Homo sapiens: one gene and its partners. The gene in region 3 interacts genetically with the main gene of each other region. Each region holds a gene or a part of one and is shown on either strand. Other genes may lie near its edges. The genes, in order: POMC, PTK6, BCAT2, AOC3 and ATR.

What was found.
Region 1: changes in BCAT2 (region 3) and POMC together harm fitness more than expected from each alone (negative genetic interaction), as found in Homo sapiens cells (one large-scale study listed by BioGRID).
Region 2: changes in BCAT2 (region 3) and PTK6 together harm fitness more than expected from each alone (negative genetic interaction), as found in Homo sapiens cells (one large-scale study listed by BioGRID).
Region 4: changes in BCAT2 (region 3) and AOC3 together harm fitness more than expected from each alone (negative genetic interaction), as found in Homo sapiens cells (one large-scale study listed by BioGRID).
Region 5: changes in BCAT2 (region 3) and ATR together harm fitness less than expected from each alone (positive genetic interaction), as found in Homo sapiens cells (one large-scale study listed by BioGRID).

Annotation. Positions count from the first base shown.
Region 1 is NC_000002.12:25,161,867-25,167,524, forward strand, and holds part of POMC (pro-opiomelanocortin preproprotein), read right to left. Parts: intron 3,820-5,658; exon of another isoform or gene 3,770-3,819; intron 2,957-3,769; exon of another isoform or gene 2,927-2,956; 5' UTR 2,907-2,926; coding exon 2,775-2,906; intron 1-2,774.
Region 2 is NC_000020.11:63,525,426-63,531,911, reverse strand, and holds the end of PTK6 (protein-tyrosine kinase 6), read left to right. Parts: intron 1-984; coding exon 985-1,166; intron 1,167-1,680; coding exon 1,681-1,834; intron 1,835-2,188; coding exon 2,189-2,376; 3' UTR 2,377-3,911; downstream 3,912-6,486. UniProt on the Homo sapiens protein: Non-receptor tyrosine-protein kinase implicated in the regulation of a variety of signaling pathways that control the differentiation and maintenance of normal epithelia, as well as tumor growth.
Region 3 is NC_000019.10:48,796,021-48,802,301, forward strand, and holds part of BCAT2 (branched-chain-amino-acid aminotransferase, mitochondrial isoform a precursor), read right to left. Parts: intron 4,278-6,281; coding exon 4,167-4,277; intron 4,081-4,166; coding exon 3,961-4,080; intron 3,819-3,960; coding exon 3,655-3,818; intron 1,314-3,654; coding exon 1,171-1,313; intron 1,003-1,170; coding exon 917-1,002; intron 699-916; coding exon 558-698; intron 483-557; coding exon 408-482; intron 1-407. UniProt on the Homo sapiens protein: Catalyzes the first reaction in the catabolism of the essential branched chain amino acids leucine, isoleucine, and valine. May also function as a transporter of branched chain alpha-keto acids.
Region 4 is NC_000017.11:42,855,094-42,860,354, forward strand, and holds the end of AOC3 (amine oxidase [copper-containing] 3), read left to right. Parts: intron 1-300; coding exon of another isoform or gene 301-350; coding exon 351-480; intron 481-1,181; coding exon 1,182-1,457; 3' UTR 1,458-3,031; downstream 3,032-5,261. UniProt on the Homo sapiens protein: Catalyzes the oxidative deamination of primary amines to the corresponding aldehydes with the concomitant production of hydrogen peroxide and ammonia. Has a preference for the primary monoamines methylamine and benzylamine.
Region 5 is NC_000003.12:142,565,234-142,571,781, forward strand, and holds part of ATR (serine/threonine-protein kinase ATR), read right to left. Parts: intron 2,922-6,548; coding exon 2,830-2,921; intron 1,029-2,829; coding exon 888-1,028; intron 1-887. UniProt on the Homo sapiens protein: Serine/threonine protein kinase which activates checkpoint signaling upon genotoxic stresses such as ionizing radiation (IR), ultraviolet light (UV), or DNA replication stalling, thereby acting as a DNA damage sensor.

The DNA of each region.
Region 1 (5,658 bases), on a different chromosome or scaffold from region 3:
GGCACAGTGTCGGGCGTGTCAAGCGTCGAGGCCTCCCTACAGAGCAGGTCTGCCCACCTGCTTTCTTGGCACTCGTGGGCATCTAAGATCTTGCCACTGCCTCTTTTGTCCCATCCCCTTCATGCTTCTGCCTGGCAACTGCAACACACTTCCCATCCCATTCCATGGTTTGTCTAGCCATCTAGCCACCCCTAGCTTTTGTGAACAGGACCAAAGTCTTACTGTTATATGCCTGACATAAAGGAGTGGCTCCAAGAAAGGCAGACGGGTGGTAGTTGTTGGCACTTAATGAATATTGAGGGCCGGGCACGGTGGCTCACACCTATAATCCCAGCACTTTGGGAGGCCAAGGCAGGCAGATCACATGAGGTCAGGAGTTCAAGACCAGCCTGGCCAACTATGGTGAAATACCATCTCTAGTATAAATAAATAAATAAGCTGGGTGTGGTGGCGGGCGCCTGTAATCCCAGCTACTCTGGAGCCTGAGGCAGGAGAACCGCTTGAACCTGGGAGGTAGAGGTTGCAGTGAGCCAAGATCACACCACTGCACTCCACACTCCAGCCAGGGCAACAGAGCAAGACTCCGTCTCAAAAAAATAAATAAATAAATAAAAAGAATATTGAATAAATACATATGGTTTAATTCAAGTCCAGGAGGGGAGTGGGGCTGAAATTTGGGGGATAATCTCTCCAGGTGATAGAAGTCTGGCTACTAGGGCCCATATTTTTAAACATATTTTTAATAATGCCTCAACCTGTGTGAACCTGGGAGGTGGAGCTTGCAGTGAGGGGAGATCGCGCCACTGCACTCCAGCCTGGGTGATAGAGCGAGACTCCGTCTCAAAAAAATAAATAAATAAACAAAAAATAAAAAATAATGCCTCAACCTTACCTCAGTGATGAAAAACCTACTTTATGCCCTACCCCAGCTCCATCTCTGCACTAAGCCTCCAAAACTGCACCTTGGTTCTTTCACGACTTCTGAGCTGATTTCTGAGAGATCCCCCAGTGAGCTCTGGGGCAAGCTTATTTCCCTGTAATCTCATTCTGACTGGAGGGAGGGGTGGAAAGCTAGCGTTATTTCCATTGCACCGTCTGTGGAACCTGTGTCTCTGCTCCTTGTCCCTAGAGGACTCTATTGTGGTACATATTAGCTTAGGAAAATGGCTGCATAGGCTGCAGCCTTGAGTTTTCAGTGATAAAAAGATGAAAAGCTCACTGGCTGCTCTCTTTCTTGGGAATAGCAAAGGAGAAAATAAAAGGATCCTACCCACTCTGTTGAGCTGGACATTGCCTACTCCAGGTGTTCAGAATTACAACTCTGTGGAACGTTAACAATGGAAAAAACTAATTTACACTCCCCTCCCGTGGACAGATAGTGAAACAGGAGACTCAGAGAGGTGATAGGACCTGGTCAAGGTCCCACACCTCAAAACTGGGTCTAGAACCCATGGGTCCTGACTGTGTCCAGTGCACCCTCCCTGGTGAGCTGTGCTGTGGGTGTCTCAAGTCAAGAGACTCTTGGGTCTTTCCAAACTGGAACTCACAGAATCCCCTGGGCTCTTTGTTTCTATTTTATATTACACATGAAAACTGGTCTGTGTCTTTGAGGACCTCATTCTATCTTCACCTTAACTCAGCTTCTGCATTGACAAAATACACAGAATGTAGTTATGTACATTCCACCCTCAGCACCTGCCAGGTGATGGCAACAAGATTAAAATTCCGGTCACTGACACTAACAGTATGGGGGTTTGTTTGTTTGTTTGTTTCATTTTGTTTTGTTTTGAGACAAGGTCTCATTCTGTTACCCAGACTGGAGTGCAATGGTGTGATCATAGCTTACTGTGTCGTCAGACTCCTGGCCTCAAGTGAACCTCCCAAGTAGCTAGGACTACAGGCACATGCCACCACATCTGGCTAACTTTTTTATTTTTTGTAGAAGTGGAGGTCTCACTATGTTGCCCAGGCTTGTCTTGAATCCCTGGGCTCAAGCAATCCTCCCACCTTAGCATCTAAAAGTGCTGGGATTACAGCCATGAGCCATCTCGCCTGGTCTCAGTGTGCCTTTTAATCTCTGGATTTGGCATCATTACTCATTTATGCCCCCCAACACACACACACACACACCCCCCACAGGCAGATACATACACCCTGTGGTGACCTGGAGGGAGCTCCTGCCTGATGCAAAGGGCCTTCACATGCTCTGGAAAGACTGTAGAGGAACACAGCAGAAGGCCAGTCCTCCAGAATAAACATGAGACATTTGGCACCAATTAAAGAAAAAAAAAAAAGGGCCCCTGGTTTTTCCTTCTTCCAGAGATGATTTGAAGAACTACCTGGCTGGTTTTGCAACCGGTAGTAGATAAAAGGGTAAGAAATATGGAATGAAAATGGCAAGTGATATGAGCTTCTTAAAAAGGAATAGTTTGGGAAGCTAAAGATTTAAAGTACAGAATAGATTGAGGGGTCCATTATTGCTCTTATAGCACCATCTCTAGCTTAAAGGGTTCAAGGTCTCCATAAAAGATGGGGCAAGAAGTAAGGATAACCAAGCAGAAATTGTGGACTCAACCCCTCTCCCTGAAGCTGCTTCCTTCCCTGATTTCTTCTCCCATTTCTTACTTCACTGCAAAGTTTTGCTCCTGCCCTGGATTGAATCACGCCTATCACTGGGAATGAATTTCCCTTTCCCCACACCCTTTTCTTTTGAGCTTTCCCAGCTCCAGTCCCATCTAATGTCTAAGCCAAGATGGCAGTCATGGCCCACGTACCAGCAGGTTGCTTTCCGTGGTGAGGTCCTGACACTGGCTGCTCTCCAGGCACCAGCCACGCACTTCCATGGAGGCCTGAAGCAGCAAGGCCAGCAACAGGGCCCCCGAGCGGCTGCAGCACGATCTCGGCATCTTCCAGGCAGGCTGAGGCTCTGCAGAAGCAAACAAGATTGGTGGGACCCCTGCAAGGAGCAAAACAATGTTGGCCACTCACCAGGAAGGACCTTGAGCCAACATTAACAACACACTCTCTTGTGGAGTTAAAGGCATTTTAAGGACAGCAGCAATGCTGAGAAAGGAGGTGTGCAGTACAGCGGTGGTATAAGTTGTGATAAGGAGGAGGGAATGGTGGGTAAACTGTGACCATTTCCCTGTTATCTTCTATTTAAACGAGACCCCTAAAAAGGTTAAGGCTGGAAGCTATTTTGGGGATTGCTTGGTTCAGCCCTTCCCATGAGAGATGGGAAAATTGAAGCCCAAAGAGAGACAATTACTTTAATGTCCATGACAAGGTAAGGCTAAGCTCCTAACAGAGAACTTTCCTATTTCACTACATTAAGCTGTAGTTCTAACATGCAAGATCTCAGGAGTGAAAGTAACTTGGGAAAAACGGAGGACCCTGAAACTCCTGCTCAAGATGGTCTTTTCCCTTTTTATTCCACCAGGATCCTATCATTCCTCTGAAACTCTATTTCCTATGAATATTAGGTTGACAGAAAAGCAAATAAAACCACTGGCCAATTTAGGCAGCATTTCGAGCAGCCTGATTTGATGTCCTGCACACAAATTACTCTGGTGATCACTATTACCCAGACTCCAGTAACTTTGGAGAGCTTCGTTTTTAAAGCAGATCTCAGTTCTTTGAAATCTGGCTCATCTTCTGGACACGTCACGTGTCAGATGTCTTGTTCTCTAGAGCTCTCAAATGTGGTCTGAAATGGCAGGATTTGAAGAGGATGCAGATGTGGAGGGGAAAGAGACCAGAAGGGAATTACCTCCTGGTGGAACAGCCACTGCAGATACTTTTGGAGAATCCAGCAAGTGCCTGTGGGCAGAAGCTGAGGTCAAGACACCAGGGGACAGTAAGGAGGGGGCATCCATGGTGCCCCTAGCCCCCTGTACCCACCCCTCTCTCCAGCACTACCCTCGCACTGCCAAATTTCCCTTAACCAGGTGGGCCCCCTGAAGCCACCTCGAGGCCGGAGATCAGCTCACCGCCAACCCTACAATCATTTTGGATTTCAGAAGATCTTCTCAGCCAGCTGCTAGAAAGAAATGTAATTAGATGAGAAAAGTAATTCACATTAAAGCGTGGATGACTAAGTGTCTTGTCACTCCTAATGAACGCTGGCATTTTAAAATAAGTTTGCCTAAAATAAATCTCTCATTTGGGGAGGCGTGGGCCAAATCTTTTTTATATAGGGGAGGCTTTGGAAGTGAAAGTCCTCTGAAGCGCTGATTTCTACTTCAGGAGGCCACTTCCTTCTCTCTACCCCACCCTCGCCCTATTCCCCAGGCGCTGGGCCTGCACGGTGCTAGCTTCTGAAGGGTTGCCGGGCAAGGCTGAGCATTTTCAGAGCAGCCATTAGATGGCACTGGCAGCCAGTGACTGGCCCAGGTGCGCTTCGGCTAAAGGGGCAACTGAACGAGCTTTGGTCAACCTTGGTGTCCTCTCCTGGCTCCAAGGGACAGGCTGTTCCCATTGTACCCTGCCAGTGATCTATTCAAGTACACAGCCAGAACTTGGTGGACCAGGCAATTAGATTAAAGCTCCAAGTTGACCATAGCACATTTAGCTCTGAAAAATGCCCAGATGTTACAGTCACAGAAAAATGGTAGTTACGTATGTCACCAAATGCAAATGTAAAGTAACATATTAGTAAAGGAAAAAACAAAATCTTACAGGTCTGATAGTTCCCTCAATTATATTTCAATTCTTGTCAAAGATAACTACTCTGGAGTGATTTCCATTTGCTAGAAGCAATGACTTCAGGCCTTCCTGGAAAGCCCCAGAGAGCATTTCCCCTCCTTATGCCCTATGTGCTGTGTTGTACAATGTGGTAACATATTCACTCCCACCCTCTCAGAGCTTATATTCTGTTGCTAAACTGGTTAGATGGCTGCTATTGCTAAAACTTCAGATTCTTCCCTGAAAGATGGTCTTGTGTTTGTATTGTATATTTTGCTTATGTGTATGTGTATTTGCTTATGTGTATTTTCAGTTCTCTACAATGAACAAATAGTACCTTTTGTGTCATTTTTAAAGCAACAAATTATTGGGGAAATATCAAATGTTGTGCTTTTTTAAGTAGGGAAAGTATTATAATCCAAAAATGGAAAGCTCTGGAAAAATAGAAACTTGAAATTTGCTCATCCTGAGATTAACTTTATAGTAGAACTACACTTATTAGAACTTCATAGGTGTGAGGGGCTCTCTATGAGCTCAACAAATCATTTTGCTTGTTACTGTAAAACTGCACGCTGGCCATGACCTTTTGTAAAGATTAGAGGAGCACAGGGGCCGAGTTTTGTCCTTACACCATGACATACATGCATCGAGTCCTATAACAAAAGCATCAAAGGAACAGTAAGTCATTAAAGTGGCCATAATCTGTGCAGAGTTTATAAACTGACACACACACAAAAAAAATCCACACACACTTTTATTTTCCTTGGCTCCTTCCAGCCATTCTGTAAGAACCCTCCCTGCCCCATTTAAACATGAAGAATTTGGGGAATCCAAATGCCAAGTGGACTGTCTCTCCTTCGCTGGAAACGCCCCTTACCTGAGCCTTGATCATTCCAAATGGCTGCCCGTGCCCTCAACCCAGGATCTGCGCCATAAACCGTCCACCCCGGTTCTGTTGAGGGCATCCGAAACTAG
Region 2 (6,486 bases), on a different chromosome or scaffold from region 3:
TCTGAGCGAAAGGCTCCGTACCCCTCGCCCTCACACAAAGGGCTTGATCATCTCAGACAGTCCCCACGCCCTTCAGGGTCCTCCGGGAGGGAATGTGGGGTAAAACAGGCACCACCAGGCCGCAAGCCGCTGACAGCCATTCTCCTGTTCGAGTTCCCACTGCCTACATCACGCAGTCATGAGCCTCTTCGCTGGTCCTTCTGCGTCCAGCTCCTCCCGCGTCATCACAAACTTCCAGAAGGGAAATCGCTGGGCTAGACCACTAGGAACTGCTCCTTGGTTCTTTTTTTTTTTTTTGAGACGGAGTCTCACTCTGTCGCCCAGGCTGGAGTGCAATGGCGCAGTCTCGGCTCACTGTAACCTCCACCTCCTGGGTTCAAATGATTCTCCTGCCTCAGCCACCTGAGTAGCTGAGATTACAGGCACCTGTCACCACGCCCAGCTAATTATATATATATATATATATATATATATTTTTTTTTTTTTTTTTTGAGACGGAGTCTGGCTCTGTCGCCCAGGCTGGAGTGCAGTGGCGTGATCTCGGCTCACTGCAAGCTCCGCCTCCCGGGTTCACGCCATTCTCCTGCCTCAGCCTCCCGAGTAGCTGGGACTACAGGCGCCCGCCACCACGCCCGGCTAATTTTTTGTATTTTTAGTAGAGATGGGGTTTCACCGTGTTAGCCAGGATGGTCTCGATCTCCTGACCTCGTGATCCATCCGCCTCAGCCTCTCAAAGTGCTGGGATTACAGGCGTGAGCCACCACGCCCAGCTTGCTCCTTGGTTCGTGATAAACAGTTGCCTTCCAGAAGGGCGGTAGCTGGCCTGCAGTTCCAATTTTCAATCAGGCCAGCTGCCCTTTGCCCCGGCCCCTCCTCTGAGCCCGCAGAGCTTGGAGGCAGATGAGACATGGCCCAGCCTCCCCAACCCTTCCCCACCTCAGCTGGCTCAGCTGACCCCAGGCTCTGCTCCACTCCCCTCTGCAGACTCTGATGAGAAAGTCCTGCCCGTTTCGGAGCTGCTGGACATCGCCTGGCAGGTGGCTGAGGGCATGTGTTACCTGGAGTCGCAGAATTACATCCACCGGGACCTGGCCGCCAGGAACATCCTCGTCGGGGAAAACACCCTCTGCAAAGTTGGGGACTTCGGGTTAGCCAGGCTTATCAAGGTAGGGCCCTCAGAGGGCGTGGCTGGGGTCGTGGCCGGGGCGTGGCCGGAGGGCTGGGGGCTTCCTGTGTGTGGAGCTGGGGACTCGGCTGGGAGCAGGATGCGGCCCCTGCCCTCGGGAGCCCAGGCTGGGCAGGGAGGTGGGAAGCCACCGTGAGTCCGGTGGGGCCCCCATTCTGAATGGCACGCACAGCAGGGCCCACCACGCAGCCGCTGCCTTGTTCACGTGCCTTGTTCACTGGCCCAGCCCTGGGCCCCTCTGACGGCCTGGGAGCCTCCCAGTTCCCTGTCCCCCGGGCCCTCCGGTCCCCACACACCTGCAATCCCAGGGGAAGTTGGGCTCCTGAAGGTGGTCAGGCCCCAGTGTGGCCTTAGCTGCAGCGGCCGTGCGTGGGTCAGACAGTGGGGTCATCACCGTCCCACTGCTGGGGCAATGCGGCCGCTGTGCCCGTCCATGCTTCGGGGGCAGGGCACAGGCAGCCCCCACGGCCCACTCAGCTCCAGGCTGATTGCAGGAGGACGTCTACCTCTCCCATGACCACAATATCCCCTACAAGTGGACGGCCCCTGAAGCGCTCTCCCGAGGCCATTACTCCACCAAATCCGACGTCTGGTCCTTTGGGATTCTCCTGCATGAGATGTTCAGCAGGGGTCAGGTGCCCTACCCAGGTACTGTCCCCACTGTCCCTGACTGGGCATGAGAGGCAGAGTGGGGGAGGTCCTGGGTAGCCGGCAGGGACGCTGGGGGGTGCCTCCCCCACGGGCTTCAGGGCCCTCCGCGGGCCATCGCCTGAACTCCACACCTGCACCATTCTCTGAGCACCCAGGCTGGTGCCTGGAGCTGCCTGTTGGAGCCCTGTCCAGAGGGAGGTGTTAGCAGTGGACAGTGTGCTGGGTGGCGCCAAGGCATGGCAGCTGAGGCTGCGGGGAAGGCCCCAGGAAGGGGCAGTGGATGGCTGGTGTGGCTTCTTGGGGGAGGGTAGGCAGGTGGGCCCCAGCTCTTCTCATCCCTGTCGGCCGCAGGCATGTCCAACCATGAGGCCTTCCTGAGGGTGGACGCCGGCTACCGCATGCCCTGCCCTCTGGAGTGCCCGCCCAGCGTGCACAAGCTGATGCTGACATGCTGGTGCAGGGACCCCGAGCAGAGACCCTGCTTCAAGGCCCTGCGGGAGAGGCTCTCCAGCTTCACCAGCTACGAGAACCCGACCTGAGCTGCTGTGGAGCGGGCATGGCCGGGCCCTGCTGAGGAGGGGCCTGGGCAGAGGGCCTGGACCTGGGATCAAGGCCCACGCGCTTCCCTGGGGTTTACTGAGGTGATGGGTGCAGGAAAGGTTCACAAATGTGGAGTGTCTGCGTCCAATACACGCGTGTGCTCCTCTCCTTACTCCATCGTGTGTGCCTTGGGTCTCAGCTGCTGACACGCAGCCTGCTCTGGAGCCTGCAGATGAGATCCGGGAGACTGACACGAAGCCAGCAGAGGTCAGAGGGGACTCTGACCACAGCCCGCTCTCTGGCTGTCTGTCTGCAGTGCCCGGCTGAGGGTGGGAGGCAAACACGCCTTGTTCCTGCTCTTCCCAGTTCAGCTTGGTGGGAGAAAGTCATTCGCGTGGCTCGGGACGCTCATGTAAATTTGGTTTTGGTGCTCAAGGGTTCTTTCCTCCCAGGGGCAGGTGTTTCTTTCCTGTTTGTCTTGTGTCTTGAGAGCTTGGCCTTATGACCAGTGAGAACTCTCTCCCTGGTCTCTGCCAGCCCAAGCATCACTGCCCGAGGCGCCAGCTCAGTTTCACCGTCCACGTCCACAAGGGGCTTTTCCCACCTTCACCTTTGTCGCTGGGTCAGTGCTGGAAAGCGCCCCTCACTCCTGCGCTGACAAGGGCCCTTCTCTACTGTCTGTGGGGTGGTTCCGGGCTGGGGGGGCTGCCTCCTTTGCACCTGATTTTGAAGGTGTCTCTTTCATCCATGGTTAAGTCATAAAAAGCTTATTGGTTTTGGTTTTGACTCACCTGAAAGTTTTTTTGGTTTAAAAGAAGAATAGGCGGGGCACGGTGGCTCATGCCTGTAATCCCAGCACTTTGGGAGGCTGAGGCAGGTGGATCACGAGGTCAGGAGATCGACACCATCCTGGCTAACACGGTGAAACCCCGTCTCTACTAAAAAATACAAAAAATTAGCTGGGTGTGGTGGTGGGGGTGGGCGCCTGTAGTCCCAGCTACGTGGGAGGCTGAGGCAGCAGACTGGTGTGAACCCGGGAGGTGGAGCTTGCAGTGAGCCGAGATCGCGCCACTGCACTCCAGCCTGGGCGACAGAGCGAGACTCCATCTCAAAAAAAAAAAAAAAAAAAAGAAAGAAAGAAAAATAATTTTGGGAGTTTCTGGAAAGGTACTAGGATTTCTCAAAAGGATTTGTCTTCTGCCTTGTGAAAGACAGATGTCAGACTAATCAGGCTTATCCGATGTGCTACATGAGATGGAAAGCGTGTGAAATAGTAAGTCACACTAAGTCTTCTGGAGGTTCTATTTACGGGTTTGGTTTTGATATGAATGTTGCAGAAACTCTATAAAATTCCTAGAAATCTGATACGTTATCCTATGATATATATCCTATCTCACATGCTATTCCTAGAAATCTGGTGCAATGTTATCAGTCATAATTTTGGTTATTACATTAAAATGCTGCATGCCACAGAAATAACCAAGTTTCCTTGCCAACCGTGTCACGAATATAATAAACTCTCATCAGATCCTGAGCCATGGCTATCTTAAGTCTTCGGTCATTCACAGTTATTATCTTACTTTGATTTTTTCTGAAAGCTTTGCAATCAGCTAGTCCCAAATTGTTTATTCTTCAAAGAGATTCCTGGGAAGGATTCTGACAGGTGCTCTGGAGCACAGGTTTCTGGTTCAGGTCATAGCCTTGGATTGGGTGCAAATTTCCAGAACTCGAAGGAGGGACCTGGCAGGTCCATGAAAGTTCTGTCCCAGGATCAACCAGAACAAGAATTAATGACATGGGAATGAATGAACTGACGAGGATGTTTACTGTTTAATGACTTTTGTCTGAAGCATTACGGTTCTTTAATATTTTGTTTTCCAGATGTAAGAAAACGTTTTTTGTTTCTGTTTTTGTTTTTGAAGACAGGGTCTTGCTCTGTCACCCAGGCTGGAGCGCAGTGGCGTGACCACAGCTCATTGCAGCCTTGAATTCCCAGGCTCAAGTGATCCTCCCGCCTCAGCCTCCTGAATAGTTGGGACTACAGGAATGCACCACCACACCTGGCTAATTTTAAATTTTTTTTTTTTTAGGAGATTCAGGGTCTTGCTATGTTGCCCAGGCTGGTCTCGAACTCCTGGGCTCTAGCAATCCTCCTGCCTCGGGACTACAGGCCTGAGCTGCTGCGCCCAGCCTGGGCACGAAAGCCGTCTGTACGAGAGTTGCTGGGGAAATTTCTCTGAAGTCTGTATCAAGTGGGGCAGCTTCAGCTTACAGGGCTTTGGGAAAAGAGCAGTTTTAATTTTCAGTGACTCCATGAGGAATGGTGGAAGAAAAAATTGGAAAGAGTGGTTTGGTGAGCTGTAGGCAAATATTGGAGGAAACTGAAGTTCAGGACCCGGTCCGGACCACAGGTGGGCGACAAAACCTCCAGACAGCAAACCGGGCTAGAGTCTAATAGTGGGGGCACGAGTTTTATTTTGAAACATAATTTTTCTCTCTACAGTCAACAAATTTCTTTTTCTTTTTTTTTTTTTGAGATAGAGTTTCGCTCTTATTGCACAGGCTGGAGTGCAATGGCTTGATCTCGGCTCACGGCAACCTCTGCCTCCCGGGTTCAAGTGATTCTCCTGCCTCAGCCTCCCGAGTAGCTGGGATTACAGGCATGCGCCACCACGCCCAGCTAATTTTTGTACTTTCAGTAGAGATGGGGTTTCTTCACGTTGGTCAGGTTGGTCTCGAACTCCCGACCTCAGGTGATCCACCCACCTCGGCCTCCCAAAATGCTGGGATTACAGGTGTGAGCCACCGCACCCAGCCAACAAATTTCCTTCTTCCTTTTTTTTTTTGAGATGGAGTCTCGCTCTGTCGCCCAGGCTGGAGTGCAATGGCGCAATATTGGCTCACTGCAACCTCTGCCTCTCGGGTTCAAGTGATTCTCCTGCCTCAGCCTCCCAAGTCTCTGGGATTACAGGTGCCTGCTACCACGCCCGACTAATTTTTGTATTTTTAGTAGAGATAGGGTTTTGCCATGTTGGCCAGGCTGGTCTCGAACTCCTGACCTCAGGTGATCCGCCCACCTCGGCTTCCCAAAGTGCTGGGATTACAGGTGTGAGCCACCGTGACCGGCTGCAAATTAACGCATTTCTATCAAAGATAATAAAAGTAGGATTGTTTTCAAATTAACACATTTCTATCAAAGATAATAAAAGATTGATTTGATTGCAGAGTAAGTTTGGCCTCATTAAACCTGGTGTGGTTATTTATGTAAGTGGAACAAGAATAGTGATTAACCACATAGGTTCTTCCTCATTTTTGTTTTCCAACAGGGCCTCACCCTGTCACCGAGGCTGGAGTGCAGTGGTACCATCATGGTTCACTGCTGCCTTGACCTCCTGGGCTCAAGCCACCTTCCAGCCCCACCCTCCAGAGTAGCTGGGACGACAGGCATGTGACACCACACCTGGCTAATTTATTTGTATTTTAGTAGAGAGGGAGCCCCACTATGTTGCCCAGGCCAGTCCTGAACTCCTGGGCTCAAGCAAACCTCCCATCTCAGGCTCCCAAAGTGCTGGGATTATAGGTACACCTGGACACGTGGGCTCTTTTAAAATTTGCTTTACTGGAACTTTTTTTTTTTTTTTTCCTGAGACGGAGTCTTGCTCTGTCGCCCAGGCTGGAGTGCAGTGGCGCGATCTCGGCTCACTGCAAGCTCCGTCTCCCGGGTTCATGCCATTCTTCTGCCTCAGCCTCCCGCATAGCTGGGACTACAGGCACCCGCCACCATGCCCGGCTAATTTTTTTATTTTTAGTAGAGACGGGGTTTCACCGTGTTAGCCAGGATGGTCTCGATCCCCTGACCTCGTGATCTGCCCACCGTGGCCTCCCAAAGTGCTGGGATTACAGGTGTGAGCCACTGTGCCTGGCCTACTGGAACTTTTTATAAGGAATCTGAGATTGGGCTTTTAAAAGCCTCTTGAGGCTAGGAAGCCATCGCAAAGACTTGCCATCAGACTTTGCCTGCAATAAGTACAGATTTAGGGGAATTCCTCTCTTCTTGAGGTCCCTAAGGTATCTTAAGATTCTGGGACCTGCCAGGAATTGACATTCTT
Region 3 (6,281 bases):
GTGATTCATGGAAAGGGCCTTTCTCCCACCAGGGCACCCGGGGCAGCAGAGGATCACAGGGAGGGAGTTTCTCCCACCAGGGCACCCAGGGGCCTCAGAGGCCCACGGAGAGGGGGTTTCTCCTACCAGGGCACCCAGGAGCCGCAGAGGATCACAGGAAGGGGTTTCCAAAGCTGAAGACATATCCAGGGCTCCGGGAGCTCCCAGGAAAGGGTGATTTAGCCCCAAGGGGTTTTCCAGGCCACAGAGCAGCACAGAAAGCCCACTCTCCAGGGCCTCAATAAGAAAGGCCATTATCTGTTCCTGGTACTACTGAAGGAGGCTGGCTGTTAGTCCAGGGGCTCATGGGACACCAACTTCTCCAGGGAACAAGCTCCCAGCCCATTCCCCAGCTCCCTGCAGCTCACCTGGATCTCCTTCAGCTCCTTCTGGAAGCGGAGGATCAGCTCAGGCCCATTTTCCATGGTGGGAATGTGGAGGTTCTGGGACAGAAGGTGCGGTGAGGACCAAGCCCCTCCCCTCCTTCCCTCCCACCCACAATGGCAGCCCCGCCTCACCCTGTCTTTGTACAGGATTCGGTGCACTGGGCAGACCTGGCAAGCGGTGCCCGAGCCAAAGACTTCCCGCACGCGGCCCTCCTCCAGGGCCCGCAGCAACTGCTTCATGGTGATCGTGCGCTCCACCACCCGGAACTCACCCTGCAGGGCAGTTGGCAGAGACACGTGTCCCCAGAGGGTTGCCCTGCTGCAGACCTCCACCTCTCCCTCCCTGAGGATAGTGAGAAAGACAGAGGCCCAACGGGAGAGACAGACCCAGGAGAAGGGGCAGAGACATGCCAGTGTGCCCCAGTCCCAGCCCTCTGATGCCCTGGCCCCTGGCACATGGCGCCCATCACCAGAAGATGCCATGTCCTCACCCAGGTCTGAGCCATGTCCAGTAGACTCTGTCTGACCACTCCAGGCAGGATAACACCATTCAGCGGGGGCGTCACCAGCTCCAGCACTAGGGCAGGTGTAAGGGGTGGAAGATGTTACCTCTCACCCCCTAGCACCGCCGTCTTAAGAGCCACCCCCTTCCCCCATCCCAGAATCCCTGGGGCCTGTAACCTGCCAGGAATGATGGTGCCACCCACTTCCACCAGGGTTCGGGCTGGGTCATGGGTGGGCTTACCCCCATCTTCGTGGGTCCAGTAGACAAAGATGTTCATGGTTCCCACCTCGGTGAGCTGGTGGTCGGGCCCATACAGCCAGAGGACCTGTTCACAGCCCCGCTTGAGTGCCTCCTGTTGCACTAACACGGTGGGCCCATAATTCCTGGTGGAGGGCAGTCTGGTTGGGTGGGGCAAGGGAGCCCCATCCTTCCCCAGCCCAGCCCCAGAGGAGGCTCATCCTACTCTCTCCCGTCTCCCTGCTCACAGCTCTCACAGGGCTCCCCAGTTCCCCTGAGATGGAATCCTTGACTTTTCATTTGGCATCAGGACCCTAAATGGTTATGTCCCCTCTCTCCTGTCTCTTCCCACTTTTCTTTCTTTTCTTTTCTTTTTTTTTTAAGACGGAGTCTCGCTCTGTCACCCAGGCTGGAGTGCAGTGGTGCGATCTTGGCTCACTGCAACCTCCGCCTCCCAGGTTCAAGAGATTCTCCTGCCTCAGCCTCTCTTGACCTGGTGATCTGCCCGCCTCAGCCTCCCAAAGTGCTGGGATTACAGGCGTGAGCCACCGCGCCCAGCCCTCACCCATTTCATACTGACCAAATCCTCAGCTGTCATTCAAAACCATTTCTTTTTTTCTTTTTTTCTTTTTTTTTTTTTTGAGACAGAGTCTTGCTCTGTCGCCCAGGCTGAGGCTAGAGTGCAGTGGTGCGATCTCAGCTCACTGCAACCTCCGCCTCTCGGGTCCAAGCGATTCTCGTGCCTCAGCCTCCTGAGTAACTGGAGTAACTGGGGCATGCAGCACCATGTCCGGCTAATTTATATTCACATTTATATTTATATGCCCGCCTCAGCCCCCCAAAGTGCTGGGATTACAAGAGTGAGCCACAGCGCCCGGCCTTACTTTTTATATTTTTAGTAGAGACGGGGTTTCACCATGTTGGCCAGGCTGGTCTCAAACTCCTGACCTCAAGTGATCCGCCTACCTCGGCCTCCCAAAGTGCTGGGATTACAAGCGTGAGCTACCGCGCCTGGCTCCAAAACCGTTTCTGTTGTCACCTCCTCGAGAGGTGTTTCCAGACCTCCAGGCTGGGTGCTGGACCTTCCCTGGACTCCCCCAGTGAACTGGGCTACCTGGATGACTTTCTGAGTCTCTCTCCCAGAGATAGCCTCTCCCCTCAGCTGCTAACAAGCCTCCCATGGCTCCCCAGTGCCCCAGGACAAGACCCTAGCCTCCTTCCGGCATTCCAGGCCTGCCTGGGTCTAATGAATACTTGCTAAGCATTTTTCAAAACCCAAACTTATTTTTGTAACCTGAACATCTTCTGTGATCCTATTCCTTCTGTCCCTGTACACATGGTTCCCAGGACTGGAAACAGTTTGCTGACTTTTGTACCCAGGAAACCCCCTCCTCCCTCCTCGTCAGACCTAGTTGAAGGGTCGCCTCCTCTGCGAAACCTTTCTTTTTTTTTTTTGAGATGGAGTTTCGCTCTGTCGCCCAGGCTGGAGTGCAGTGGCGCGATCTCGGCTCACTGCAAGCTCTGTCTCCTGGGTTCTCGCCATTGTCCTGCCTCAGCCTCCTGAGTAGCTGCGACTACAGGCGCCCGCCACCAAGCCCGGCTAATTTTTTTTTTTTTTTTTTGTATTTTTAGTAGAGATGGGGTTTCACTGTGTTAATCAGGATGGTCTCGATCTCCTGACCTCGTGATCTGCCCGCCTCAGCCTCCCAAAGTGCTGGGATTACAGGCGTGAGCCACCGCCTCTGGCCTCTGTGAAGGCTTTCACAATGCCCTGGGTCACCTCACCAGAGAACATGCAGCTCCGAATACTGGGGCTCCCACCAGCCTGGGAGACCCAGGAGAGCAGGGCTCGGGGCTGACTCATCTGTGTCCCCAGCTTCTGCCAGCACAGGGCCTGGCCCTCAGGAGACCTCACAGGATGTGGCTGAAAGGACCTGAATGCACCCCCAGCTGGGGCCACATTCCTGTCCCAACACGCCAGTGCCCACCCTCTGCCTTGGTTGCCCAGGAGACCCAGCTGTCTCCTTCCTGCCCTGCTGAGCTGAGGCCACTGGGAGACAGATTTACACAGAAAGTCCACACGGGGGTGAGGGGCTTTGGAGGCTCAAACGACTGTGGGAGCTGGGTATGGGGAGCGCAGCCCAGCCTGGGGGATCAGGGGAGGCTTCTGGGGCGAGAAGCCAATGAGCTGAGTGTAAGCTTCACTCCTGGAGGCTTCCAGGGACCAGTCCTGGTTTCCCCACTGACCTCCACCCAATGCCTTCCCATCTGTGAGCCTTTTTGTCCATCTGAAAAATAATCCCCTCCTCCTTCCTTCCATGGTTTGTTTTCAGGGACCAGGGAGGTCACTTAGCACTGAGCCCTGCACGGTGCTGATGATGTCACCTTCATGTGACATCCAGAGGCATGGCCGAAAGCACGCACGCTGGTCCCTGTGTCTCCAACGCCCAGTGCGCCAGTCGTTCTGGGGATGGGGGTGCTACTTACCCACCTAACTTGTAGTTGCCGACCCCGCCCACCCAGGCCCGGATGAAGGCTGGGTCGGCCAGGAGGGAGACCGGGGTCACGGAGCCTCCAGGGAAGTAGGCACCCACTGGGCAGAGAATGACGAACAGGAGCGCGCGCGTGGGCTGGCTGACACCCAGCGAGGGCTGCGACGGGCAAAGGGACAGCGTCAGGAGTCCAGGCCCCCAGTCCCTTCCCGTCCCCAGGCCCAGGCCTCCAGGACCCCACCCCTGCCCTGCAGAATCCAACCCCCGCAGCCCAGCTTCCCAGCCCTGGAGTTGGGCCCACCTCGTTCCCAATGAGCACAGGCCGCACATAGAGGCTGGTGCCGGCGGCATCGGGGACCCAGTCCTTGTCCACTTCGATGAGCCGGCGGATGCACTCCAGCAACTCCAGCTTGTCGAAACTCTGGGTGGGATTCTGAATGAGTCAAGGGGCCCTTGCTGCCCCGGCCCCAGCCCTCCTCCCCACCCCGGTGGACCGGGACCCCTCACCGGCAGGCACAGGCGCATGGCTGAGCGCAGCATCCGGTCCATGTTGAGCCAGGGGCGGAAGAGGCGCACCTGCTGGTCTTTGCCTTTGAACGCCTTCATGCCCTCAAACAGCTGCGGGGACACGCGGGTGGGGAGGCTCAGAGACTTCTCCAGACAGTCATGAGAGACACCAAGACAGACAGAGACAGATACACAAAGACACAGACAACTGAAAGATGGAGGCCAAGAGGAGAGCACCGGGGAGATTTAGCAGCTGGGTCAGAGAGATGGAGAAAAAGAGAGACAGATATAGACAGGGAGACAAACAGGTAGAGACACACGGAGACTCTAGAAAGCAAAGGACACGACCGGGCTCAGTGGCTCACTGTAATCCCAGCACTTTGGGAGGCCGAGGCAGGAGGATCACTTGAGTGTAGGAGTTCGTGACCAGCCCAGGCATTATAGCAAGACCCCATCTCTACCAAAAAATACGAAAATTAGCCAGACGTGGTAGCACGTGACTGGAGTCCCAGGTATTTGGAAGGTGGTGGGAGGATCACTTGAGCCTGGGAGTTTGAGACTGCAGTGAGCCACGATCATGCCACTGCACTCCAGCCTGGGACCTAGTTTTTTTTTTCTGGAGACTCTGTCCCTGATCACTGCCCCATGGTTCCAAGTTTGCTTGTTCAGCATCTGCTCCACTGCAGAGTGGAAGAGCCTGGAAGGCAGGGATTACCCTTGACACGTTTACCAGACAGCCTCTCCTGCAGTCCCATGCACCAGGGTAGGCAGCGCTTGGCACAGAGTGTTTTTTTGTTTTGTTTTGTTTTGTTTTGTTTTGAGACAGGGTCTCACTCTGTCACCCAGGCTGGAGTGCAGTGGCGTGATCTCTGCTGATTGCAACCTCCGCCTCCCAGGTCCAAGTGATTCTTGTGCCTCGGCCTCCTGGGTAGCTGGGATTACAGGCGCCCACCACCACGCCCAGCTAATTTTTGTATTTTTAGTTGATCCACCCGCCTCAGCCTCCCAAAGTGCTAGGATTACAGGGGTGAGCCACTGCACCCAGCCAGACTTTTTTTTTTTTTCCCATAGTGGGTTTTTGATGAATGAATAGATAAATGAATGGAAGACAAGCAAAACTAGCTACAATATTTTGGGGGGATAAAAACCACCACCACAAAAATGAGGGGCAAGATGGGGCAGGGGCAGGGAGTAGCCATATCAGGTAGTAAAACATTATAAATCTACAATACTTAAAACAGAGTGACACTGCTATATGAGTGGACAGACTGAATAATGGAATAGATAACCAAATATCCATCTAGAGAAAAACTACGTTGAATCTCTATTTCACACCTCACACCAGAAAAAATTCCAGGTGCATTAAAAGTCTAAACAAAATATATATATATATATTACACCATAAAAGCTATAGAAGGAAACAAAAATAACTGTTTTATATCTTGGATTGGGAATTTTATTTTTTATTTTATTTGAGATGGAGTCTCACTCTGTTGCCCAGGCTGAAGTGCTCTATCTTGGCTCACTGCAACCTCTACCTCCCAGGTTCAAGCAATTCTTTTGCCTCAACCTCCCAAGTAGCTGGGATTACAGGTGCCTACAACCACGCCCGGCTAATTTTTGTGTTTTTGGTAGAGACGGGGTTTCACCACGTTGGCCAGGCTGGTCTTGAACTCCTGACCTCAGGTGATGCGCCCACCTCGGCCTCCCAAAGTGCTGGGATTACAGGCGTGAGCCACCACGACTGGACTTTTTTTTTTTTTCCAATTTCTTGTACAGATAGGGTCTTACTATGTTGCCCAGGCTGGTCTTGAACTCCTGAGCTCAAGCAATCCCCCTGCCTCTTCTTCCCAGCCCCAGATGAATTTTTTAAAACCTAACCTGATAGAAAAATCAGCCTAGCAAATGGACAGTTCACACAAAAGGAAATACAGGTGGCCCTTAAGCTCGTGAGAAGATAGTCAATTTCATTAATCACTAGGGAGAAAAATGCAAATTAAAATTAGTTTGAGATACCTTTAAAACCACATGGGAGATTGGAAAAGATCTAAAACTTGGACAAGGGTTGTCCAAGGTATGGAAACAGGCTCTGCTGGTGGGTGTGGAAACTGACAC
Region 4 (5,261 bases), on a different chromosome or scaffold from region 3:
CTTGGTCTCCCAAAGTGCTGTGATTACAGGCATGAGCCACAATGCCTGGCCAAAGGTTTTTCTAGTTATCCAAAGAAACCATGATGGGCACATTTTCCCCTTGGAGGCTAAAGCCCAGGAGTGAGAACTCTCTTCTGTTTTGGATGGGAGAGGGGTTGTACTGTTAAATGGCTGGGGATAAACAGGAGGACTTGACCCCCCTTAGGGTGACGTCGGGGATTCTGTAGCGCCGAGTCAGTTGTGTGACTGCAATTGGGGAAGCTGAGCTCTGAGCACTCAGTTCCCTTTCATCATAATCAGGCAGCAGGATGGGGTCAATGGCCATGGAGGCCTGACCAGTGCCTCCCTAGGTACCAGCTGGCTGTGACCCAGCGGAAGGAGGAGGAGCCCAGTAGCAGCAGCGTTTTCAATCAGAATGACCCTTGGGCCCCCACTGTGGATTTCAGTGACTTCATCAACAATGAGACCATTGCTGGAAAGGTCAGCTGGCCGGGGTAGAGGGTACAGGATGAGCCTTGCTTTCTCTTGGGAGGGTCCCTGAAAACCACCTGCACTTCTCAGGGGTGGTGCTGATTCCTGCCTTCTGCACTTCAGTATATCTGATCATTATCCTTTGAGGGAACCTTCCTGAGCTGGGTGTCCATATGCAGACACTGAGTGAGGCCCTGGGCCTGTCCTTGAGATCTTAGAGCCCTCTTAGTTCCAGTTTCATGGACTGAGTCCTTTCCAGGCTCCAGGACTCAGGAGGGATGGAAGTTACCAGGGAAAATGACATCTCCTGTATCTGAAGCTTCTCCCATTCCTGACTTGATGAATTTCACAATGTTGGCCTGGTTCTGCTTCCCAAGCGCTGGTTCTTTTTCCTCCACCCTTCTTTCCTCAGTTGTGGGGAACTCTTGGAGAGTTAGGGGAAGAGGAGCTGAAGTAGCCTGTGGGTGTCACCCTCTGGGGGTAGATAGGCAATGGGCGATATGATGGGAAATGTCAGAGATGGAGGCTGCAAGCCAGGGACAGGGAAGCAGGTGTTCCTAATATGAAATGGACTACTTATGCTTTGACTCCTACCCAGCAGGAAAAAATGTTTAAAGACTCATGATCCTTGGGCTGGTGAGCTGAATCCCTACCAGGGCATGTCCTCAGCAAAGCCAGACCTCGTGATCCTCTTTCTTCTCCCCTGCTAGGATTTGGTGGCCTGGGTGACAGCTGGTTTTCTGCATATCCCACATGCAGAGGACATTCCTAACACAGTGACTGTGGGGAACGGCGTGGGCTTCTTCCTCCGACCCTATAACTTCTTTGACGAAGACCCCTCCTTCTACTCTGCCGACTCCATCTACTTCCGAGGGGACCAGGATGCTGGGGCCTGCGAGGTCAACCCCCTAGCTTGCCTGCCCCAGGCTGCTGCCTGTGCCCCCGACCTCCCTGCCTTCTCCCACGGGGGCTTCTCTCACAACTAGGCGGTCCTGGGATGGGGCATGTGGCCAAGGGCTCCAGGGCCAGGGTGTGAGGGATGGGGAGCAGCTGGGCACTGGGCCGGCAGCCTGGTTCCCTCTTTCCTGTGCCAGGACTCTCTTTCTTCCACTACCCTCCCTCGCATCCGCCTCTGAGCCAGGAGCCTCCTGACCCTGTGATGCCTGACACAGGGGACACTGAACCTTGTTGATGCCAGCTGTACTGAGTTCTCATCCACAGAGGCCAGGCATGGCCCAGCCTGGAGCCGTGGCCGAGGGCTTCCCTAGATGGTTCCCTTTGTTGCTGTCTGGCTTTCCCGAATCTTTTTAGGCCACCTCCAAGGACTCTAAAAGGGGGCTATTCCCTGGAGACCCCAGAGTAGGGTTGCCAGTCCTGCAAGTCCATAGCTGAGCTGGAAAGGATGCTTCTGCTCACATTCCCTCTCATCCAGGTCCTTTCCTTCTCGTCTTCCTCTCTCTCACCTACTTCCTCCTCCTCCTCCTGTTCCTGCCTTCTCTTCTATCCTGCAATTTCTCCCGAATCCTGAGGGGATATCCCTATGTCCCAGCCCCTGGTACTCCCCCAGCCCTCAGTTTTCAGTCAAGTTCCGTCTCCTCTCCAGCCCTATGGAAGTCTCAAGGTCACGGGACCCCTAATCAGAGTGGCCAATCCCTGTGTGTCGTTCCCTTGTGTCTGTTGCTTATTGGGAGTAGGAGTTGCTCCTACCCCTGTCCTGGGGCTGGGTGTGTTTCAGGACAGCTGCTTCTGTGCATTTGTGTCTGCCTGCCTCATGCTCTCTATAGAGGAGGATGGTCATCGTGACAGCAGCAGCTCAAGTTAGCATTTCAAGTGATTTGGGGGTGCAATGATAATGAAGAATGGCCATTTTGTACCAGGGCTCTGTATTCTGCAACAGCCTGTTTGGGAGGCTGGAGTGGAAACAAAGGGTGGGCATCAAAGATGAGAAGCCAAAGCCCCTACAACTCCAGCCACCCAGCCAGGAGGGGCTGTCCAATCACATTCAGGCATGCGAATGAGCTGGGCCCTGGGTGAGGTGGGGGTCTGGCCTAGTGGGGAGGGGCCTGGCCTGGGTGGGGCAGGGCCTGGCCTGGTCCAGGCTTGGGCTCCATTCCCATCACTGCTGTCCCTCCTGAGGTCTGGATTGGGGATGGGGACAAAGAAATAGCAAGAGATGAGAAACAACAGAAACTTTTTTCTCTAAAGGACTGGTTAAATCAATTCTGATACAGCCTTACAATACAATAGTATGCAGCTAAAAAATAATTGTATGTCTTTATATACTAATATGTAATAATCTTCAGGTGAAAAAGGCAAGCCACAGAAATGTGTATAGCGCACTTCCCATTTGTGTTTCAGAAAGGAGTAGAATATAAACACATAATTGCTTATGTATGCCTATTCAGAATAAATGGGTAACACTGATTACTTTTGGGAGGGGAACCAGTAGGTTGAGGACAGGAGAGGGAAGGGTCTTAACACTTACACCCTTTTGTACATTTTGAATTTTGAACCATGTGACTGTATTACCTATTCAAAATAAACAATAAATGGGCCCAAACAGGAATTGACTTTTTTTTTTTACTGACACTTTTTTTTTTGGTGGGGAACAGGTTGGGGGTAGGGTAAAGTGGGTTAAGGAATGGGACCAGGGATGAAATTTTCTCCAGTTCTTGAGATCCAGAGAAGCAGGTGTGGCCTCTAGTAACTCCTTTTGCCTTCTCATGCTTGTACATCTTTGAGGAAATGTTAAACCTCGGTTAATTCCCTGACACACACACACCCCACCCTTTCCCTCTCTCCTGTCTTCTCTCTCTCTCAATGAGGGGCAATGAGAAGCAGTGAGGAGGGGTGACTTCTGCTTGCCAGAAGCCCAGGCCAGGGCAGGAGGTAAAGTGCAGGAAACATTCTGGATGCCACTCAGCTTCTGACCAGAAAAAGACCAGAATATGTTCTGGGAGCTCCAGCATCATGGAAGCTTCTGCTACCTTCTGTTCTGCCCCAAGCCCAAGTTCTGCCGTAGGTCAGTGGAACAATGGATGGGGAGGAATCAATGAGCTGGAGAGAAATTAGGCTCTAAAGAACAGGAAGAAAGCCTTCAGTAAGGAGCAGGGGGCCTTCAATGGCATAGTAATTCATAATATGGCCAGGAGTGGAGGCAGGAGTGAAGGAGGACAGGGAGAGATGGAGAGAAGGGCAGACTCAAGACAGAGATGCAGGAGAAAGGGGGATGCTGTGGCCTGCTGGGACACTGATGCAGGCTTCATAATCCCTCTGACCTGAGGACTTGAACTTTCTTTTTTTTTTAATTTTTAATTTTTGAGATGGAGATTCACTCTTGTCACCCAGACTGGAGTGCAATGGCACGCTCTCGGCTCACTGCAACCTCCATCTCCCGGGTTCAAGCGATTCTCCTGTCTCAGCCTCCTGAGTAGCTGGGATTACAGGTGCTGCCACCACGCCCGGCTAATTTTGTATTTTTAGTAGAGACGGGGTTTCACTATGTTGGCCAGGCTGGTCTCGAACTCCTGACCTAAGGTGATCTGCCTGCCTTGGCCTCCCAAAGTGTTGAGATTACAGGTGTGAGCCACTGCACCCGGCCTGAACTTCTCATTTCAATGCATATCCTCTTGTCCCCACCTCCTTACGGCTCTTTCTTATGGCTACTTGCACCATCATCAGTGCTGGGGGAAGGGGAGCAAAGGAATTCAGATATCCACCCCCGCACCCTCACCATCTTGTTCACTGGAATTTAGTTGCCTTGAAACCCATCTCCAGACCAAAGTGTTTGTATGTGTTGTGTGTGTAGTTGTATGTCAATTCTCACAAGCTTTTATATGAAAACGTGACTGGTTGTGTCTGCTTCCTTATATCTCAGCATGGTGATGATGCCACCTGCCCCAGGCCCCAGATGAGGGGAGGCAGAATGGACATCTAGATTGTTAGAACATCAGTTCAGCTCGGGTCAGGAGGGCCGCAAGGTGGACCTCCAGCCCCACACCCCAATCCAATCTCTTCCTTAGACCACAGAAGTTGTCTGGAGTCTTGGCTTCAGACTTGTGGTCAATTGTCTAGGAGTGATTACTGGCTGAGGATGTCAGGTTCTGAAGGAACTGGTGCTGCCAAGGCTCAGATCTTCAGGACTTGGGGCCCAGTGGCCTGAGATAAAGGAGTTGGACAAGGGAATCCCTGAGGCTTGGGTCAGAGGGCATGACTAGGACTTCTCCAGGAATGTGAACATGGCAACCCCCTGTGAGGACATGAGGTGTGCCCACTCGCCTCACCTCTTTTATTTTTTTTATTTTGAGATGGAATTTCACTCTTGTCGCCCAGGCTGGCGTGCAATGGCATGATCTTGGCTCACTGCAACCTCCACTTCCCGGGTTCAAGTGATTCTCCTGCCTTAGACTCCTGAGTAGCTGGTATTACAGGCACCTGCCACTACGCCCGGCTAATTTTGTAGTTTTAGTAGAGACGGGGTTTCACCATGTTGGCCAGGTTGGTCTCGAACTCCTGACCTCAAGTGATCCGCCTGCCTTGGCCTCTCAAAGTGCTGGGATTACAGGTGTGAGCCACAGCACCCGGCCCCCAGTGACTTCTTAAACACAAAATCAACAGGAGCTCCTGGCCGCCTACTTTCTGGACCTCTCGGTGGCGTTTGACAACACCAACTGTCCTCCCTCTTGGAACCCTCTCCCATCTTGACTCTCCCACATTGTCCCCTTTTCATCCATATTTGCTCCTTCTCAGTCTTCTCAGGCTCCTTGACTTCTGCTCCCCCTACCTACTCA
Region 5 (6,548 bases), on a different chromosome or scaffold from region 3:
AGAATAAAGGAATAACCAAGCCAGTTCTAAGCAGTTAGAAGTAGTGCTCAGAAAAAAACTTCTTGGAGGACATGCTATCAAAGTTGAGTTAAAGTTTGAACAAAAAATTTTAAAATACTTTATCCATTATACAAAAAAAATGTTTATTTTGCATCTCTTTATGAAGACACCAATGAAGGGACAAAAGTAGTAGGTGCAATAAAGAATAAGCCTAGAGAAAAGCTTCAATATATAGAATAGCGGTCAGCAAACTTTTTTTAAAGGACCAGATAGTAATATTTTTGGCTTGAGTGCCCAAGTTGCCTTTGTAGTAGTCACAGACAATAAGTAAAAGAATGAGCATGGCTGTGTTCTAATAAAACTTTGTTTACAAAAACTGAAGCCAGGCACAGTAGCATGTGCCTATGGTCCCAGGTATGCAGGAGGCTGAGGCAGGAGGATCCCTTGAGTCTACCAGTTCAAGACCAGCCTGGGCAACATAGCGAGACCCTGTCTTATTTAAAAAAAAAAAAAAAAAAAAAAAAAGGAAACAAAACAAAACACCAAAACTTTGTTCACAAAAACAGGCAGCCACCCTGTGGACTACAGCTTGCCAAGCTCTGATCTAGAAGAAAGAGATTACCAAAAACAGAAAAAAGAAAACCATGCCAAAGTGTTCAATGGCAAATAAACAAATTTGATTATTTCTAAGTACCTAGTATACAATACTAAAAAGAAAACAATAAGGATATGTGAAGGAAAAATAACCATTACCATTTTGCTCCTTCAATTTATAGCAAAGCTGACCCAAAAAAGTATAATCCTGTACATGTAATATTTCAGAAGAGCAGTAAAAGGAGGATTTTATAGAACAGATGGCAAGTGAATGCATGAATAACAGCACTTACCAATACAACTGCCTTTGGCCTCATGGCTTCCACTCACATTTACAAACATAAGTGGGGAGGATTTCATGATATGCTGGATGAAATCAAGCAACATCACGGAGGTTGGCTGAGAGTCAGTTTTCTTTACAAGTTCTACAGCAACTAAAACAATAAGATTCATTTTAAAGAGTCATGACAAATTAAACAATGGTCCTTTTGTTAAGAAACCAGACTGTGGGCCAGGCAAGGTGCCTCACTCCTGTAACCCCTGTACTTTGGGAGGCTGAAGTGGGCGGATCACCTGAGCCCAGGAACTCAAGACCAGCCTGGATAAGATGTCAAGATCCCGTCTCTACAAAAAAAATTTTTCTTAAAATTAGCTGGGAGTGGTAGTGTGCCTATAGTCCCAGCTACTCAGGGGGCTGAGGCTGGAGGATTCCCTTGAGCCCAGAAGTTCAAGGCAGTAGTGAGCTACGATCACACTATTGCACTCCAGCCTGGAACAAAGCAAGACTCTGTCTCTTAAAATTAAAAAAAAAAAAACAAAAAGTGGGGTGGGGGTGGGGAACCAGACTTTGGTGACCAGAATTATATCCAGCACAGCACTCAACAACATTCAAGCTAAATTGATGGGGCTAAACACTACAGTCTTTTTTTTTTTTGAGACACAGTCTCACTCTGTTGCCCAGGCTGGAGTGTAGTGGTGTGATCTTGGCTCACTGCAACCTGTGCCTCCGGGGTACAAGTGATTCTTCTGCCTCAGCCTCCTGAGTAGCTAGGACTACAGGTGTGTGCCACCACACCCAGCTAATTTTGGTATTTTTAGTAGAGACAGGGTTTCGTCATGTTGGCCAGGCTGGTCTCAAACTCCTGACCTCAGGTGATCCACCCACCTCGGCCTCCCAAAGTGTTGGGATTACAGGCGTGAGCCACCGTGCCCAGCCAACACTACAGTCTTATCTAATTTTAAATGTTTAAAAATCACATGCATTCCTCTACCATACATCTATTTATCAAACATGTACTTCAGGAATAATATGCCAGGCAATGCTAAAATCTAAGGATTAAAAAAAAGTTCTCACAATCCAGTGGGGCGCCAAACAAACCAACTAATAATTATAATACAATATGGTAACAGCACTAATCCAGAATAAGGAGAAACAGGTATCTGGGAGGACACTGTGAAGGAAATGATTCCTAGATGAGGAGTTGGTCAGAGAGGGGAAGGGCAAGTAGTCTAAACGGAGGGAATATGAATACGATACAAAAACACATCTTGTAAGTATTCAGTAGTCCTTTGTTATTTTTCAGCAACCCATCATTTTACTGATTGAAAAAGAAAGGATTAATGGCTAGTCTAAGTCATAAAATCTGCGCCAAATTTGGAATCCAAATTATAAACCCTGAGCCTAATGCCATTTTATATTATCCCTCCCATGTAATTTCAACAGATATGACAAATGTGACACCATCTTGCCAGGTTGGTAATATTCTGTCTAGCAGATTGGCACAAACAGGCAATAATTGATTCAGTAACTCACATAATCCTATAATCTCCTATAGGCACAGGCATGAACCTACTTAAAGAGTAACTTACTTAAAGAGGTTTTTTTGGGTGGCATTTGCTATTAGTCTACCACTGGCATAACAGCTAACCAAAATAGGGTCCACATGATTGGTACTGGACAAATATTTTTACATATAATATCCAATATTAAAGAACTCATAGCAAGCAGTAGAAAATCTAGATAACAAACAGGAAAAGAGAATTATTTTAAAAGCCTAATTCAAATTTTGTAACAAGCAATAAGCAATACTGATTAACAAATAACTTGCTTGAAAATAGTAACTATCATAAATACTCCATATCTAAAACTACATGGAGAAAATGCTACTATAATTTATACATGGAAAAGAAAAGTCTAATTTATAAAGTTTATATAAGAAATAATTGGTTTCTTACCAACATTTACATCTGTAAGTATCCGGTCAATGAATTGACACAGAATTTGTCTTGGCTTCTGTACAACTGTATTATATTCCTCTGGTGTGGCACTAAAATACAAATTAAAAGCTTTTAATCCTTAAAGTGACTCAGTTTCATTTGCAAAAAAAATTTCTCTAAAGTAGAACTCATCAAATGTGTTCAGTGTCAATGTTGATATTCACAGTATTCTTCTGTTTAAAAATTGAAAAGAAAATCTGAATATGTTACCAACTTACAAGAAAAAAAAGAATATGCTAAGTAATACTAAAGAGATCCAATCAGCAAAGCCTAGACCTGAACTTCTCAATATGGTGGCCACTAGCTACAAGTAACTAGGGAGAACTTGAAATGTGATTAGTACAAATTGAAATGTGCTATTGATGGCAGTGGCAGCCCAGTTGGAGCGGTGAGGAAGGTGGTGCTAGGGCTGCTCTCTCCAGGGCGCTAGTGGGCAGAAGCCCCGCCCCCTTCTGAGGTGCAAGACAGGTGGAAGCCCCGCCCCCTTCCGAGTTGCAGGGTCGGGAGCCCAGCCATCCTGGGTGCAGCTGCAGCCGCCCAACCACGGCTGCAAACCCAGGCATCCCTGCTCTTTCCAGGGCCGGGAAGGCCCCCTGCCCTCACAGACTTGGAAATGCCTGCTCCCGCTGCCTGGCCTCTCCCCGCTCCCGGCACCCACACCAATTTCGGAGCAAAGTTGTGGGGGAGCCCAGGTGTTGTCAGGACCAGGCCGCGTGTGCATGTGCTCAGGACGGCACTGACACACCAGCCCCCTGCTGCCTCATCTCCCTCTGGACTTTGGGCAGGCCAAGCGGTAGGCTGAGGGCAGCTCAATATGGGCCTGCAGGCGCCCCTCGGCACGAACAGCCTCGGTGTAGTGGGTGGCAGGTTGATGGCAGCAGGAAGTAGGCTCCTGGGAGGAAAGGGGTGGGTCCCCAGTGAAGACCCACCTTCAAGCCAGGAACAGCTTGAAGCCTGGAAGCCTGGCTGCCAGTTACACGGACCACAGCGAGAACTTAGGGTGCTTTTTCCAGGCCCACCCATGACTGCCTATGGACCAATTAGCATTCACTTCCTCCCTTCTGAAGCACATAAAAACTAAATTTTTGGTGGAACGCTAATACCCTTTTCCACAGTGGCTGTACCATTGTACACTCCCACCTGCAGTGGACAAGGGTTCCAATTTCTCCACATCTTCACCAACACACGTTATTTTCTGGGTGTTTTTTTATTATTATTTTATTTTCCCCTTTTGGCGACAGGGTCTAACCCTGTTGCCCAGGTTACTGTGCAGTGGTGCACCCATAACTCACTGCAGCCTCAACCTCCCAGCCTCAGGAGATCCTCCCACCTCAGCCTCCTGAGTAGCTGGCACCACAGGTGCATGTCACCACACCCAGCTAATTTTTTGTATTTTTTGTAGAGACAGGGTTTCACCACGTTGCCCAGGCTGGTCTCAATCTCCTGGGCTCAAGCGATCTGCCTGCTTTGACCTCCCAAAGTGCTGGGATTGTAGGCATGAGTCACCATGCCCAACTGTGTTTTTTTTTTGTGGGATTTTTTTTGTTTTTTGGTTTTTTTTGAGACAGAGTCTTGCTCTGTCACCAGGCTGGAGTGCAGTGGCATGATCTCAACTCACTGCAACCTCTGTCTCCCGGGTTCAAGCAATTCTCCTGCCTCAGCCTCTCAAGTAGCTGGTACTACAGGCATGCACCACCATGCCTGGCTAATTTTTTGTATTTTAGTAGAGATGGGGTTTTACCATGTTGGCCAGGATGGTCTCAATCTCCTGACCTCGTGATCCGCCTGCCTCAGCCTCCCAAAGTGCTGGGATTACAGGCATCAGCCAACATGCCCAGCCCCAACTGTTTTTTTATTAATAGCTATCATAATGGGTGTGAAACAGTATCCTGTGGTTTTGATTTGCATCTCCCTAATGATTAGTAATTGTGAGCATCTTCTCATGTGCTTATTTGTCCATTTGTATATCTTCTTTGGAGAAATGTCTATTCAAGTTCTTTTTCTGTTTTTCATCAGGTTATATTTGTTGTTAAGCTGTAGGAGTTCTTAATATATTCTAGATATTAAACTCCTTATCAGACATATGATTTGCAAATATTTTCTCCAGTTCCATGGGTTGCCTTTTCACTCTATTGATACTGCCCTTTGATGCACAAAGTTTTTAATTTTGATGAATTCCAATTTATCTGTTTATTTTGCTGCCTGTGCTTTGTGTCATATCAAAGAAATCATTGCCAAATCCAGTGTCATAATGTTTTCCCTCTATGTTCCCTTATTTTTATTTATTTATTTACTTTTTGAGACAGAGTTTCACTCTTGTTGCCCAGGCTGGAGTGCAATGGCGCGATCTCAGCTCACCGCAACCTCCGCCTCCTGGGTTCAAGCGATTCTCCTGCCTCAGCCTCCTGAGTAGCTGCGATTACAAGCATGTACCACCACGCCTGGCTAATTTTGTATATTTTTAGTAGAGACAGGGTTTCTCCATGTTGGTCAGGCTAGTCTGGAACTCCTGACCTCAGGTGATCCACCCATCTTGGCCTCCCAAAGTGCTGGGATTATAGGTGTGAGCCACCATGCCCGGCCCCCTCTATGTTCACTTCTAAGAGTTTCATAGTTTTAGTTCTTATGTTTAGGTATTTGTATGCCTTTTGGACTTTTAAAATTTTCCTGTAGCAGTAAAGAGAGAAGCCAGATTGCAAGGGGCTGAAAATCTAATGAAATGTGAATACTGAGAATAGCGGGTTCTTTCCAAAGCTTGATCATGAAATGAAGAGAAGTAGAGTTGGTGATAACTAAAGAACTGTATGAGATCAAGAGGGCTTTGTTTTGTTTCTCCCTTATAATGGAAAGACCTAAGCAACCAATTCTTGAGATGTGACTCCTCTTCTTGGAACCAGATATAAGTAAAAAGACAATCCTTGGACAGGAGGGTAACTCTTTCATAAACATAGAAAGAATGGATGGGTACAGACGCAAATAATTTAATAAATTCAAAAGGCAAGTAAAACAAGATCCTCTGCTTCAAAGAACTCAGAATAGTTGCTGGGGAGAGGAGAGGAATGCACTTAAATAATCAAAAGCGGCCGGGCATGGTGGCTCACGCCTGTAATACGAGCATTTTGGGAGGCTAAGGCAGGCGGATCATGAGGTCAGTAGATCTAAACCATCCCGGCTAACATGGTGAAACCCCATCTCTGCTGAAAACACAAAAATCAGCTGGGTGTGGTGGCGGGCGCCTGTAGTCCCAGCTGCTCAGGAGGCTGAGGCAGGAGAATCGCTTGAATCTGGGAGGCGGAGATTGCAGTGAGTCGAGATCGCGCCACTGTACTCCAGCCTGGGCGACAGAGCGAGACTCAGTCTCAATAAATAAATAAATAAATAAATAAATAAATAAATAAATAAATAATCAAAAGCAAGTATCATGTACACCCAAAGCAGGGAATGATTAACTCTACCTAGAGGATTCACAGTGGGTTATGTGTGAGTGATTAGCAAAGTCCATCACTTCTGACAAAACAACTTAGGGTGTAGTAAGACAGTTACTTATAAATAATAGCATATATTTCATATATGTCACAATTTATTTCTATATAGCACTGTAAAATGTTCATACATTTTCCCCACTTATTATCTCAAATAGTGGTAAAAGAAAAAGAGTGAATTTTTTTCTTTTTCTG